Linked DNA regions of Homo sapiens. The protein of the gene in region 2 purifies or fractionates together with the protein of the main gene of each other region. This does not show direct contact. Each region holds a gene or a part of one and is shown on either strand. Other genes may lie near its edges. The genes, in order: JOSD2 and MCEMP1.

Evidence for each region.
Region 1: the proteins of MCEMP1 (region 2) and JOSD2 purify together in Homo sapiens (affinity purification with mass spectrometry; 3 studies listed by BioGRID and IntAct, with this or other methods). This does not show direct contact.

Annotation. Positions count from the first base shown.
Region 1 is NC_000019.10:50,508,150-50,516,272, reverse strand, and holds the start of JOSD2 (josephin-2), read left to right. Parts: upstream 1-5,081; 5' UTR 5,082-5,156; exon of another isoform or gene 5,157-5,198; intron 5,199-5,824; 5' UTR 5,825-5,841; coding exon 5,842-5,987; intron 5,988-8,123. Other genes in the region: ASPDH (aspartate dehydrogenase domain-containing protein), read left to right, coding at 1,172-1,782, 3,262-3,346, 3,463-3,612, 3,693-3,913, 3,983-4,137, 4,500-4,543. UniProt on the Homo sapiens protein: Cleaves 'Lys-63'-linked poly-ubiquitin chains, and with lesser efficiency 'Lys-48'-linked poly-ubiquitin chains (in vitro). May act as a deubiquitinating enzyme.
Region 2 is NC_000019.10:7,672,708-7,680,117, reverse strand, and holds MCEMP1 (mast cell-expressed membrane protein 1), read right to left. Parts: upstream 3,029-7,410; 5' UTR 2,998-3,028; coding exon 2,943-2,997; intron 2,482-2,942; coding exon 2,392-2,481; intron 2,015-2,391; coding exon 1,877-2,014; intron 1,769-1,876; coding exon 1,718-1,768; intron 1,628-1,717; coding exon 1,514-1,627; intron 1,195-1,513; coding exon 1,135-1,194; intron 1,021-1,134; coding exon 1,004-1,020; 3' UTR 289-1,003; downstream 1-288.

The DNA.
Region 1 (8,123 bases), about 43 Mb from region 2:
AATTTTTGTATTTTTAGTAGAGATGGGGTTTCACCACATTGGCCAGGCTGGTTTCGAACTCCTAACCTCAGGTGATCCACTCACCTCAGCCTCTCAAAGTGCTCGGATTACAGGCATGAGCCACCGCGCCTGACCGTTTTCTTTGTTTGTTTCTTTGTTTTTGAGACAGAGTCTTGCTCTGTTGTCCAGGCTGGAGTGCAGTGGCACAATTTCAGCTCACTGAAGCCTCTGCCTCCCAGGTTCAAGCGAATCTCCTCCCTCAGCCCCCTGAGTAGCTAGGATTACACGCGACTACCACCACACCCAGCTAATTTTTGTATTTTTAGTAGAGACGGGGTTTCACCATGTTGGCCAGGCTGGTCTCGAACTTCTGACCTCAAGTGATCCACCTGCCTCAGCCTCCCAAAGTGTCGGGACTATAGGTGTGGGCCACTGCAGCCTGCCTAACCTCCCCTCTTACAAGGACAGAGGTCAGACTGGACCAGGAGCCTCCACCTCCAGTATAACCTCAGCTCCATCCTTGGCAAAAACCCAATTCCCAAATAAGGTCCCATTCTGAGGCCCTGGAGGTCAGGACTTCTGCGCTTCCCTTTCTGGGTGACAATTCAACCCACAACAGGGCCCAATCCAGAGTGTGTCTCTCCACTGCAGACCCCCTCAAGGCTGCTCCAGAGGACGGGGTGCCGAAGGGGAGGGAGGCCAAGCGGGAGGCTGGGCCTGCGGCCTCTGGGGCACAGCAGCTGTATTTCTGGCCGGTTCAGTGGGAGGCTGGAGGGCCGGATCGGGTGGGCCTGGGGCGGCAGGGGCACCACAGTGCCACTCAGAAGGGCAGGAGCAGAGCCCTGGGAGGGCAGGGAGCAAACCCTGAGCGGGCCTGGCTGGGGGGTTGCTGGCACAGTGGGCAGCTGTTGGGTGGGTTGGGGGAGGGGGTGGTGATGTCTCTTGGGGGGTCAAGGTGCCCGAGTTGCAGGCCCTGGAGGGCTGGGGCTGGCCAGGGCTGCCATCTCACGCTGCTGGGGGAGGCAGAGGGAGGGACGGAGCCATGCAGGGCCTTCCAGTGCTTTCCCACGCTGAGGTGGCTTCGGGGACACAGCCCTGAGGACACACAGGCCTGCGCCCAGCCCCCTTCTCCCCTCGTAGTGGCCCAGGCTGTACCCCGTACACGGCAGCTATGGGCACTATGGGGACACTCAGGCCCCAGCAGGAGTCAGAAGGTAGAGATGGCGGGAGGCCCCCCACTTCCGTGAGGTGCCTGGCCCCTGCCCCCTTCCTGGCTCTGTCTACACCCAGGCATCTCATCTCTCCCACACCGGGGGCTCCTGGCTCTGGAAGCCAATTCCTCCCTTATCAGCAGCGGCAGCCTTTGGGTGCCACGTCGGGGTCTTGGCCCCTCTCTGTCTGCCCGCGTCTGTCTCCTCTCTCCTCCCGTCAACTTGGGGCTCTCGCCACCCAGTGCCCGCCCCCCCCACCCCATGCTCCCGTTCACGCTCTCTTTCTCTCCAGCCTCCTTCCAGCGCCAATCCTGGTTGCCATGGAAACACTGCAGCGGGTACCAGGTGGTGGCTGGGGGCAGGGAGCCTGCGCTGCCGCAGCCTGCGCCATTTCCGATGCCAGGCACCCTCAAGGCACAGAGGCTGGGGCTCATGTTGGGGGCACTTGGCCTCTCCAGGCCTCGAAGGCTTCTCCTGGGCTGACGCGAGCTGGGGAACGGGAGGGACGGACGTGGGAGCGAGAACGTCACACTGGAGGCAGCTGGTGGCACGATGGGGGACAGAGTGAAAGGTAGCAAGTCAAGGTGAACTGAAGGATGATCAGAGCGGAGGGAGGCTGTGGACAGGGGCGGAGGCTGTGGGAAGGGGACCCGTGCTGCGCAGCGGGGCTAGGGAGGTTGGACCCGCTGAGGCAAGGGCACATTGAGGAGAAGCCACAACCAGGGCTCCCGCTGCCTCTGGGAGGGCTAGGGCCACGGCCAGGCTGAAGCCTCCCTCAGACCTTAGCCGCCTGAGGACAAGGAGGAGAGGTGAGCACGAGGGGACAGACAGAGCCCAGAGTCCCTGTCACCATCTCTTCTCCCAACCCAAAGCAAGATGCAGTTTCCATGACAACCTGGCCGGCCAGAGAGGGGGCAGGGGACTGCAGAGGAAACTTTCCACATCAGCAGGGAGAAAGAGGGTGTGCTGCAGGGGAAAGGGGGGCACGCAGGGTTCCCAGAACCCCCGGTCACCATGCTCACTGTGCTGGACCCGGGAAAGTGGACAGAGCACAGGGAAGGGTTCTCCCGCCTCCACTCCCGCAGGCCCACGCCCCCACGCTGGGCCTGCGGGGAAGGGGGAAGACTGAGCCCAGAGGCTCAAGGGTCAGATGTCCAAAGAGCAGCGGCTGCCCAGGCCTTGTGCAGCGGGCAGCGAGCAGCCCAGGGAGCCAGGCCCCAGACACCGCACTCAGGGCCATGGCCGACAGGGGCCCGTGGAGGGTGGGCGTGGTGGGCTATGGCCGCCTCGGTGAGTCCCTGACCATCCTTGGCCTCCTTCCCCAAACCCCTTCCTAAAGCTCCCAAGACTCTCTGCCCTCCACAAACACTTTTTTCTCTCTCTATCTGCCCCTGGCTGTGTCTCTGGGTCTGCCCACTGCACCCCCACCCCAGGTCTCTGTCCTCTCCGTCTCTGTCTCCCTTCTCTCTGGGCCTCTGTCCACCCCACTGTGTCTCTGCCCTGCCCCCATCTCTGTCTCCCTACCCCGCAATCTGAGTCTGTCCCCACCTCCTCTCTCTCTGGGTCTCTGTCCCCACCTCCTCTCTCTCTGGGTCTCTGTCCCCCTCTCTCTGGATCTCTAGCCCTCTCCTTTCCCTCTCCCCAGGACAGTCCCTCGTCTCCCGCCTCTTGGCTCAGGGACCAGAACTTGGCCTAGAACTTGTTTTTGTCTGGAATCGTGACCCAGGACGAATGGCAGGGAGCGTGCCCCCTTCCCTGCAGCTCCAGAACCTTGCTGCCCTTGGGGAAAGGTCAGTGACCTTGCCATGGGAGAGTGGAGCTCCCTGAAGCTCCTGTCCTGGCTCTCTTAGCCACTGTGTGATCTCAGGGGTTCCCTGACCCTCTCTGGGCCTTGGTTCAAGCAAATGTGAAACAGGACGAACCCATTCATCTCATTTCGCCTCCCAGGTCAGGGAGAAGAAGGGCAGCCCTCAGTAGACTCGGAGGGAACCTTGGGGAGAAGAGGCCTAATACCTCTCCAAGACCCTCCGCCCTCTTTCCCCTCTCCCAGGCGCCCTGATCTGGTTGTGGAAGTGGCCCATCCCAAAATAATCCATGAATCTGGGGCACAAATCCTGCGCCATGCCAATCTCCTGGTAAGCCCCACCCCAACCATTTACGCAGAGCCCTGCCCCTTCTGTCTTGGTCTCACCCCACCCTGAAGTGGATATCCTTCCCTGACCTCAACCCTCCCCTCCTTCATCCACCCCAGGTGGGGTCCCCCTCAGCTCTAAGTGACCAGACCACAGAGCGGCAGCTCTTGGAGGCCTCACAGCACTGGGACCACGCCGTGTTTGTGGCCCGAGGGGCCCTGTGGGGCGCTGAGGACATCAGGAGATTGGATGCAGCTGGGGGCCTCCGGGTGAGGCCTGCTGGGCTCCCCAGGAACCAGGGGAGGCCTGCAAAGACCCCACTCCCCCTAACCCGGGCTCTTGCTTCCAGAGCCTTCGTGTCACCATGGCCACACACCCCGATGGCTTCCGGCTTGAGGGACCCCTGGCTGCAGCCCACAGCCCTGGGCCTTGCACTGTGCTCTACGAAGGCCCTGTCCGTGGGCTCTGCCCCTTTGCCCCGCGAAATTCCAACACCATGGCGGCGGCTGCCCTGGCTGCCCCCAGCCTGGGCTTCGATGGGGTGATTGGGGTGCTCGTGGCTGATACCAGGTGAGCAGAGCTAAGCAGGGTGTTGGGCTGAGTCCAGGCTCTCCAGACTGACTGCCCCTCTTGTCCCAGCCTCACGGACATGCACGTGGTGGATGTAGAGCTGAGCGGACCCCGGGGCCCCACGGGCCGAAGCTTTGCTGTGCACACCCGCAGAGAGAACCCTGCCGAGCCAGGCGCGGTCACCGGCTCCGCCACCGTCACGGCCTTCTGGCAGAGCCTCCTGGGTGCGGCCAGGCCCCTCTCCCCCGGCCCTGGGCTCCTGTGTTCTGCAGAGCTTGGGGGTCCCGGGCTCTCACTAGTTCTGCAGTTCTGGTTCTGTATTTGTTGACCTTTCTTTCTTTCTGACCTTTATTTCCTTAACCTCTCTCCATGACTTTGAATCCTGGCACTGTAGATGTCTCCATTTGTGCCCGCCTCTGATCGAGACTCTCTCTGTCTCTGTCCACCCCCAGGGCTCTGTCCCGCTCTCTCCGGGTCTTCCTCCACCGCCCCCCTGCCCTGTCCCCTCCTCCCACCACTGCCTCCCCCAGGCGTCTGTCTCCTCATCTCTCCTCTGTCTCATTCGCTCATTCCCCTCTCCCCGCAGCCTGCTGCCAGCTCCCCTCCAGGCCGGGGATCCATCTCTGCTGAGAAGCCTCCTCCCTCCCGAGACAAGATCATCTGCCTGGCCTCTCACCACCACCATCCCACCCCTGCCCTGCCCCACTTCCCCAGGGTCTCCCTTCTGACTCAGTAAAGATCACCGCTGCCTCCCCCCGCACCGCCTGGCGTCTCTGATCCCTTTCCCTTGTGTGACGTCACGCTGCGTCTGCGCACCGCGCATGACGCCATCGCCGGGGGCGAGCACCCATGAGAGCGCGGCGCCAGGAAGCTATCGCGAGAGCCTACCTACTAAGTTTCCTAGAATCTCTGAGCAGTAGTGGGCGCGGCCGTATGCGAAAGAAGGGCCTCTGAGGCGCACTTCCGGGACCTGCCGCGGAGCCCGACGGAAGTTGTAGTGCGGCATTTCCTAGGCCCGACGGCCGACTTCAGGGCCACGCGGCCCGGGCGTTCCGTGTGGAGCAGGAGTCCCGCGGGGCCCCACGGGAGTCGTAGTCCGGCGCGCGGGGATCACCGGGAGCTGTAGTCCGTCCCGCCTGCCCAGTCAGCGCGGTGTTGCCCGCCCCGCACTCGGAGCCCAGAGCCGCCGCCCAGGAAGGGGATGCGGAAACCCCTGGCTCGGTGGAGCGGAGAGGCAGGCGGGGTGAGGGGCGTTGCCAGGCAAAGGGCGAGCGCCGTGGCTGGGGTGCGGGTCGGCGAAGGGCTCCATTCCTTGGTGTCCGGGGAGGGGGCCTGGTTGCTGGGTGATAGGAAGAGGAACTCCTGTTGCTTAGTGACTGGGGAGGGGGCCCCGTTGCCAGGTGACAAGAGCAGAGAGCCTCGCTGCTACATGACCGGGGAAGGGGAGTCTTCTGTTGCTAGGAGACCAGAGGGGACCCTATCACCTAGAGACAGGGGAGGAGGATTCTCTATTGCTAGGTGCTCGGAGGACAGACTTTGTTACCTAGTGCGGTGGGGAGGGGGCTTTGTTGCTAGGTAACCACAGAGCGCCCTGGTTACCTAGGGACGGGGAGGCAGGTTCCTCTGTTGCTAGGTGACCATGATAGGGACCCTTTTACTTAGAGACCTGGTGAGGGTGGTTTTCTGTTGCTAGGGGAGCAGAAGAGACAGCGTTTTTCGTAGGAATAGGAATAAGGGATGGAGGGACGTGTGCTGCCAGGAGACTGCCAGGGAGCGGGGTCAGGGGCCCAGTGTCTTCCTGGGCTGCTCCGAGTCCCAGCTCAATCAATGGCGATGCCCCAAAGGCCTGCTGGGAGGCTGGACCTCTAGATCCCGGGCCCCTGAGGACCTTCTCCCCCTCCCAACCCCCAGCAGGAGCCGAGGACGGCATGTCCCAGGCCCCGGGAGCACAGCCGAGCCCACCCACCGTGTACCACGAACGGCAGCGCCTGGAGCTGTGTGCTGTCCACGCCCTCAACAACGTTCTGCAGCAGCAGCTCTTTAGCCAGGAGGCTGCCGATGAGATCTGCAAGAGGTGACCGTCACCCACCCCAGCCCCTGGAGCAGCAGAGCTCTGGCGGAGTGACCCACCTGGGTCTCGCCGCCAGGCAGGCGCTGAGCCTTGGGGGCTTTCTTCTGCTCCGCGCTCACTTGCCTAAGCTAGACGCTGGGACTCTGGGGAGATGTTGCCTCCTGTGCCTGTCTGTCCCTGTGGCCTCAGCCCCAGCCAGACCTCAATCCAGTGGTTCTTTCTTTTTTTTTTTTTTTTGAGACTGAGTCTCACTCTGTTGCCCAGGCTGGAGTGCAGTTGCGCGATCTCGCTCACTGCGAGCTCGGCCTCCCGGGTTCATGCCATTCTCCTGCCTCAGCCTCCCGAGTAGCTGGGACTACAGGCACCCGCCACCACGCCCGGCTAATTTTTTGTATTTTTAGTAGAGACGGGGTTTCACCATGTTAGCCGGGATGGTCTCAATCTCCTGACCTCGTGATCCACCCGCCTCGGCCTCCCAAAGTGCTAGGATTACAGGCGTGAGCCACTGCACCCGGCCCAGTGGTTCTTTCTTTAGAGACAAGGTCTGGCTGGTCTTGAACTCCTGAGCTTAAGTGATCCTCCCACCTCAGCCTCCCCAGTAGCTGGGATTACAGGCTCACCCAGCTTCAGGCATCTCTTATCTGGGCCCTGTCACAGCTCTCCAGTCCATCCTAAACACGCCCCCGCCCTACTCAGGGCCCTCCTCATAGCGGAGGCCGAGCCTGCCTCCGCATCTTCAGCCCTCACGGCCCCCCTCAAACCAGACTCTCCACTCCCGTGAGCCCTTCTGTGCGGCCTCTGGGCTTCCAGGTACTTCTTTCTGCCCGGCATGGCTTCCTTCTCTGCCAGCATGGAATGTTCCTCTTCACTATTCACAATGTCCAACATCACTCTTTGGCCGGGCGCAGTGGCTCACACCTGTAATCCCAACACTTTGGGAGGCTGAGGCGGGTGGATCACTTGAGGTCAGGAATTCCAGACCAGCCTGGCCAACAGGGCGAAACCCCGTCTCTACTAAAAAATAAAAATAAATAAAAAATAAAATTAGCTGGGCGTGGTGGCACATGTCTGTAGTCCCAGCTACTCTGGAGGCTAAGGTGGGAGAATTGCTTGAAGCTGGGAGACAGAGGTTTCAGTGAGCCGGGCAACAGAGCAAGACTGTCTCAAAAAAAAAAAAAAAAAAAATCACTCCTTTACCATCTCTCACTCCCTCCTCTCTGTCCCCATGTCCCTGGCCCCAGCTCAGGCCTGACCCTCTCCTGCCCAGCCTGCCCATGGCCTCCAGTCTGTCCCTGCCTTCAGTCCCCACTTGATCCTAGAGAGTCTTTCTACACCTGGAGATGGCCCTGCCTCCCCTGCCTCTTGCTCCAAGCCTCCTCCGGCTCTCGGACATCTTAAGAGTCCCAGCCCCTCAGACTGATTATTATGGTATTTAGTCATCTCCTCTATCATTCGCAACAAGGACCCATCAGCTCTTTCATACAAAAGCCATGCTGGAGACCCTGAGATGACTCAGACACAAGTGCCAGCCTAAGGGTGGTGAGGGAAACACACACACACACACACACACACACACACACACACACACACGAGCGTTTTCCTCCCATGTCCTGCCTGCCCAGGGTCCAGATAGGGAACAGAGGTGCAGCTGTTCAGAGGCAGGGCCCAGAGACAAGTGGTGACAGGCGGAAGAGCCTTCCTAGGCAGGGGAAGAGCTGGAGGAAAGGTTGGCGGGGGTGGGGCGGGAGGCGGTGGGCACCGGGGATGTGGCTGGGGACAGGGGACCAGGAAGGAGGGTGCTGAGGCTCTGAGGTGAGGCCACCAGAGCCAGACCACGCAGGGCCTTGTGGGACTCTGTCCTGGGGGAAATGAGGCAGCAGAGTGGGCTGTGAGCAGGGGAGGGGTGAGGGCAACCCCGTGGGAGAAGCAAGCAGTGTTAAATCAGGGTGATGCGGGCAGCTGTCATCGTTGAGGTGGCTCAGTTCACTGGGGGAGCCCAGACAGGGCCCCGATCCAGCCTGGAGGTCAGGAGGCTCCTCTCAGAGGACGTGACATCTGAGGTGGGCCTTGAAGGACAGAGGAAGGGACTGGCGGAGGGACAGGGACTTTGTCCAAGGCATTGGGGAGCCATGGGAGAGC
Region 2 (7,410 bases):
TAGATACACTCACGGGCACAATTACACACGTGGGTACACGCTTAGGGCTTGTATATATCCGTGGTCCCAGGTACACTCAGGGAGATGTTGTATGCTCAGGGGCACCCACTCTGGGACACAGGGAAGACACAGGGAATGAGTTACTCATTCACAGATGCACAGGTACTCACGCAGGGCACTCAGTCTCGCCCACCCTGGTGCCCCGGGGTCATTGTCACGTGCAGACTCTCCCTCTCCCCAGGTCCCAAAACCCCTCCCCTTGCCCCAGTAACAGGTCCCATAGCGACGCTGTTTTCCCTTGACTTTATTTATCTTCATAAGTCACAAAATGTGAGTGCAGAGATAAATGTCTGTGTGCATGTGCCCTGAGCACACAGGGTGGCATAACTCGGCACACTCATAATGACACAGCCGTTCACCCAGCCACAGATAGTGACAGGGCACACATGGCGACACCCACATGTACGGAGATAAATCTCCCCCACCATGACATGGGTAGACAGAAAACACGCCGCAGTATACTCTAGTATGTTTACACAAACAGGGAGACAGGCCCGTGCAATGCATGTCACCAACACCCACACTCAGAGTGACATCTGCTGGAGGTGCTCAGACACAGCCACCCACCGTGACATGCCGAGACTCACATATGTCACATGACACAGGCATGCATGCCACATTCACTGTGACTCTCAGTCCTATTCATTCATCACCTTTCTGGGAGATACACTGAAATGTCCACCCTTTGCAAAATGCACACACACGCGCACGCACACACGCACATACACGAACACACGCGCACACACGCACACACACGCACGCAGGTGTACACACACACGAGCAACTCCGAGACACTCATTCACCATGACTCGAGGTTTTTCTATACGTGGGACGAGGGGCAGGTTCACACTAGGCTGGGGGGGGGGGGTCATTTCCCGTCTTCGTTGGCAGGTGCAGCCCCATCTTCCAAGTTGTGGCTTTGGCTGCCACAATGTCCTCTCATTTATTGAGGTGAGGACTCTGGGGATGGGGAGAGACCCACAGTGAGGCAGATCCCGCCCCTGGGAGAGGAGCTGGGGCTAAATCTGAAGCCCCACCCACCCTCCTCCACCTCCTGTCGGGGCGCCAACTTACGTGGCATTTTCTGCAGCACCTCCAAGATTTTCTGTACCTTTGTGTCAATGTTTTTTATGCCTAGGGGGCGGGGAGGGTTGGGTGGGAACAGATAAGTCAAGCTGCGGTGGAGCCTCAAACAAAGCCCCCACCTTCCTTGGAAGCACCCCCCCTGCCCCACACCCACCCTGGGGTACAGCAGAGCCCATGGATTTGGGGTTCCCAGGAGCCTTTCAATACCCACAGAGCAACCCAGATGGTAACACCCATCGCCCCTCCACAACTTGAGCTTTGGGAGGGTAGGACCCCGGCTTTCTCCTCCCCTGAATCCCCTGCCCCCAGCTCAGCTCCGGGCATTGGTGACAAATAACCCCCATAGAAGGCGAGACTACACAGGCACCTGCTAATGTCGTCTCTAATCTATCAATCTTGCTCCTGACCATGGTGATGCTCTGCTGAACGGAATCCCAGCCTCTCTTCTGTCTCTCTTCGCATGCTTGTACGGAGTTTGAGACTGAGGGCATGAAACAGGGGTGTCTGTGCATCCATCCCTCTCCAGACCCCCACCATGACCCCACGGGTCTCCCTCAGACCCTCCGCTCACCATTCCAAAGCTCCCTTTTAAAGCCCAGCAGCTCCTTGGACATCTCAGCATCTGTTCAGGAGGGGCAGGAAAATCCTTGAAGCACCCAGGGAGAGAGAGAGAGAAGGACAAGGGAGAAAGTCTAGGCCCCCCAGCACCCTCCTCCCAAGAAGTACTCACTCTTCACCATGATGAAGGCTGACAGGATGATGCAGAGGACAAAGGCCAGGGCCAGGAGGATGTACAGGCTCAGGATGGCTCTGTACAACCAGCAGGGGACCTGGGTGGAGTCTGAGGGCGGCCTGCACTGGGCTGGGACTGGAGCAAAGAGGCAGCAAAGTGACCTTGAGGGGCCAGCACCACCACTCAAACCATCCTCACTGTCTCTAACACCATGGACACCTCGCTCCTCTCAAAACCATCAGCAGCTGTGGTCATGCAGCTTGTCATCATCGTCAACAACACTGCCACCACCAGCCACCCTCAGCGATCTAACACCGTCACCATCACAGACCCCCTCTCCAGCATTCCCCAACATTGTCATCATCAACAGACCTCATTAGCACGTCAACAGCTGTCACCTCTTCCTTCCCCATCGCTTCCTCCCTTCCACGCAGCCCCGGGGGCCCTGCAGTTGCCCGCCCACCTGCCCCTTCCCAAGGTGATGGGATGTGAGCAGGTGGGTGTCTGCTCACCTTGGCTCGTGGGTCGTGAATGACCACCCTTTGCATGGTCCTGATTTTTGAAGGCCAAGGTGATATTCTCATAGTCTGGGTCATGGGCACCTGGGAGGGGTTGGAGATCTGCTCAGAGCTCTGTGGTGTGGAGAGTGGATCCGGGATCTTGTTTTACCCAACCCTTTGCACTCAATAAATTGTAGGGGGTGAAAGATAAGGAGTGAGAAGCTAAAATCTGCTTTTTGGTTAAGTGGAGCGGGTGTGTGAGAGTTTGAGTGATCACACCACACACACATCCACACACACATCCACACATCTTGGAGGGGAAGGAGCCCCCGGCCCCCACCTTTGACCCCTTACCTCTCCCATCTGAACTCTCCTTCTTTTTTTATTTTTATTTTTTACAGACAGAGTCTCCCTATGTTGCCCAGGCCAGTCTCCACCTCCAGGGCTCACGCAATCCTCCCGCCTCAGCCTCCCAAAGTGCTAGGATTACAGACATGAGCAAAAGCCCCCGGCCCCCCAATCTCTCCTTCTTAACCCCTCCCTTCCACCTCGAGTTCCCTAACCTTGATTCTTGGCTGAGACCCCCTGTTTCTTGTCCCTGAAGGCTGGTGCTTGCATCTTGACTTCCTGGTGCTTGTAGATTTCCTCCACTTCCATGGTCCCCAGCCCGCAAATTTGTCCATACACGTCCCCGCCCACCGGAAGGTGTGGGCAGATGAGGAAATCTGGAGGTGGGGGGAAGAAAGAGGGGGAGCAGCCTCCTCTTTTCAGGGATCCACGACTCTCGCACCCTGGGGCACCCTCATTCCTGCCCCGATCAAGAGGCTCTTGGGAGCCAAGAGGTCTCAGGAAGGACCAAGAAGAAAAACCTCTAGACCGGGAGATGGAATTCGACACTCGGAAATGTTACAGGAAGCTGTGGTCTCTGTGTGTGTCTGTGTCTACCTGGATGGACCTCACCCTCCTACCTCCTCTCCATTTCAAAAGAGAAGCTGTGACACCTCAGTGTCCCAACTTTTCGCGTAAGAGCAACCAGGCTTGGAGACAGGACCCCTGGGTCCCCCCACACCTTCCTCCCTCCAGCCTCAGCTCCACCCCTCAGCTCCACCCCCAAGAAGTTCTTCTACTTCTACAAGTCCCCGTGGAGGAAAAGCACAGATGTGAGGCAACGGGAACTAACCACTGGAACGCCACACCCACATCTGGGACTGAGGACAGACCCACATCCTTCCCTCCCTCCCCAAATCCCCTGCTTTTATACAACCCTGGAGGAGGCTGGGTGCGGTGGCTCACGCCTGTAATCCCAGCACTCTGGGAGGCTGAGGTGGGTGGATCATCTGAGGTCAGGAGTTTGAAACCAGCCTGGCTAACATGGTGAAACCCCGTCTCTACTAAAAATACAAAAATTAGCTGGGCGTGGTGGCGAGCGCCTGTAATCCTAGCTACTCAGGAGGCTGAGGCAGGAGAATCGCTTAAACCTGGGAGGCGGAGGCTGCAGTGAGCGGAGATCACACCATTGCACTCCAGAATGGGTGACAAGAGGGAAACTCTGTCTCAAAAAAGAACCCTGGAGGAACAGTTTCCTCTGCACCTGGAAACTCCAGGTTTCTCATTCTCATCCATCCATCTGCTTATCTACCCAGATACTCTCTCTCACACATGTACACACACAGGTCTGCACACGGACACACATCACAAACTCATTTGCATACTATTTGCATTGTGACACTCAGAAAAATAGACACAAGCATGCGTTCACATGCCCGCACTCTGTCTAGAAGGTGTCTTAGTTCACTTTGTGTTTATCTGATCTTGAAAACTGGGGTTACAAAAGGCACAAAGTAGCTGGGTATGGTGGCTCGCTCTGTAGTCCCAGCTACCCAGGAGGCTGAGGTAGGAGGATCATTTGAGGCCAGGAGTTTGAGACCAGCGTGAGCAACATAGCAAGACCCTGTCTCTTTAAATGTTTTTTAATAATTTTTTTTTGAGACAGGGTTTCACTCTGTTGCCCAGGCCGGGGTGCAGCAGCGTGATCATGGCTCACTGCAGCTTTGACCTCCCTGGCTCAAGTAATCCTTCGTCCTCGGCTTCCCGAGTAGCTGAAATTACAGGTGGGCACGACTTCACCTGGCTAATTTTTCTCCTTTTTTGAGATGGAGTTTTGTGCTTGTCACCCAGGCTGGAGTGCAATGACGCTATCTCAGCTCACTGCAACCTCCGCATCCCAGGTTCAAGTCATTCTCCTGCCTCAGCCTCCCAAGTAGCTGGGATTACAGGCATGCACCACCACCCCCGGCTAATTTTGTATTTTTAGTAGAGACGGGGTTTCCCCATGTTGGTCAGGCTGGTCTCGAACTCCTGACTTCACGTGATCTACCCGCCTTGGCCTCCCAAAGTGCTGGGATTACAAGCATCAGCCACCGTGGCCCAGTCTAATTTTTCTTATTTTTTGTAGAGATGAGGGTCTCAATATGCCGTCCAGGCTGGTCTTGATCTCCTGGGTTCAACTGATCCTCCAGCCTTGGTCTCCCAAAGTGCTGGGATTACAGGCATACATTTTTATTTTTATTTTTTTCTGGCCAGGTGTGGTGGCTCACGCCTGTAATCACAGCACTTTGGGAGTCTGAGGCGGGCGGATCACCTGAGGTCAGGAGTTAGAGACACCAGCCTGACCAATATGATAAAACCCTGTCTCTACTAAAAATGCAAAAATTAACTGGGCGTGGTGGCAGGCGCCTGTAATCTCAGCCACTCGGGAGGCTGAGACAGGAGAATCACTTGAACCCGGGAGGTGGAGGTTGCAGTGAGCCGAGATCGCGCCATTGCACTCCAGCCTGGGCAACAAGAGCAAAACTCCGTCAAAAAAAAAAAAAAAAAAAGAAAAAAGAAGAAAGAAGAAAGAAGGAAGGAAGGAAGAAGAAAAGAAGAAAAAACAAGTATAAGACTGTCTTATGTGCAGAAAGTGATGATGTTTTGGTTAAAAATATGTGGTTAAATTTCAGACAACTTGAATGTTGAGAAATGAGCGTCGAGATCTGGTGAGGATAAAGTTCTGTTTCCTAAAATATTGCCAAATCCTGTGTCTCCAAGAAAGATCAATTTGATAATGACTTCATGCCAGCTGCTCCATTTGGTCTTAGAAAGAAGTCAGTTACTGAGCTATAGGACCGCCTTCTAATGGAGCAGACGGACCAATTGGATGTGGGCTCTGCCTTGATGGACAGGCACAGGGGGTGGAGCCACAGCGTTGCACATTTCCCGGGCTTGGGTGGGGCTGAGACGCGGCTCCAGGCTCTGGACTTCCTTTGAGAAAAAGGTCACGCTAAACCAGAGGCCCACAAGCAATCATGTCATGTGGGAAACATCTGCAAAGCTGCCTGACCAGCACCCGTCCCTTTCATAGGGTAACATTCTCAATTTTCTTTTAAGAAAGAAAATGTGTGCTAGATCCAGCAAACCATAAGCTAGGGATTGGTTTACAGTGGACAAATGATCCAGACCCAGCCAACCAGAGTCTAAGATTGGGCAGAGAGGCGGGCATTTGAGCAAGATCCAGCCAATGAAACGCTGGTCTGGGATTTTTATTGGTTTAACCACGGGGGAAAAAGCATTCTCTTTTTTTTCCAGCCCTCACTAGGGCTGCCACAATGGGAGGATGTAATGGGAGCTGTGACAGGGAAGAATTTACTTGAGAGCAAAGGCAGTGCTGAGAAAATCAGACCCGAGAGGAAGTCTGGGTCCTGGAGACATCATTTGAGACCCTGGTTCCAAGCCATACCTGAACCTGTTGTTCTAACCCTGGGCTTGTCAGTTACACAAACAAGAAACTTCCTTTTAGTTTTGCCCAAGCTAGTTTGAAGTGGGGTCTGTTGTACTTGCAAGCAGAAGAATCTTGCCTTGGCTGGTCTCTGTGGCCCACGCCTGTAATCCCAGCACTTTGGAAGGCCGAGGCAGGTGAATCACTTAAGGTCAGGAATTTGAGACCAGCCTGGCCAAAATGGCGAAATCCCCGTGTCTACTAAAAATACAAAAATTAGCCAGGAGTGGTGGTGGGCGCCTGCAATCCCAACTACTCAGGAGGCTGAAGCAGGAGAATCACTTGAACCTGGAGGTGGAGGTTGCAGTGAGCTGAGATCGTGCCACTGCACTCCAGCCTGGACAACAGAGTGAGACTCCATCTCAAAAAGGAAGAAGAAGAAGGAGGAGGAGGAGAAGGATGAGGAGGAGGAAGGAGGGAGGGAGGAGGGAGGAGGGAGGAGGATATCTTGCCTACCACAGGGGATCTAGGCATTAGCTATTGAGGAAATTGAGGCTCTAATAGGGGGTTTGCCTGTCCACATCACCTGGGCAGATATGACCTCCAAGTCTGCACTCTGGGGCAGGAGAATGTCTATGTTGGAATTGAGGAACCTGAAGAGAGCCCTCTTAGGTTTCAGATACAGGACTATTGGATGGGGGTGGAGACAAATAGTTCTGGGGACAATGGAGCATCCCCGCCCCCAACACACACACACAGCAGTAAGGGGCAGGGACACACACAAGGCACTAGACTCACCCTCTCTGGCCCTGGCCATGCTTCTAACTCAGTGGTCCTGCCCTACCCCCATGACCACTGTGGAGTCAGGAGAGAGGGTCTGGGAAGGGAATCCCTGGGCTGGAGTCTGGGTGGGGTCCCTGGCACCAGAAGTGGTTGTAATCTCTGCTCATGGCCACCAGCATCAGACAGGGGGCTGGGACCATCACAGGGGGTGGGTGGCAGTGGGAGGAGAGTCCAAAACATCCTGCAAACCAGAACCTCACTCTATCATCTGTTGTCCAGGTGTGACATTTGAGTCTGGGATCCCTTTCAAGACTAGGTGCTAGGAATTCTGAAGTCTGTGGTGGGAAATCAGGGACTGGATGGCAAGACTCCTGGGTCAGGCTTCCTGTAGAACTGGACCCCGAATCACCTGAATTTGTGCCCCAGGGAGCTGAGGCGGGGGATGCTGAGGCTTTTGCCCACTAGAACAGGGGTCCCCAGCCACCGGGCAT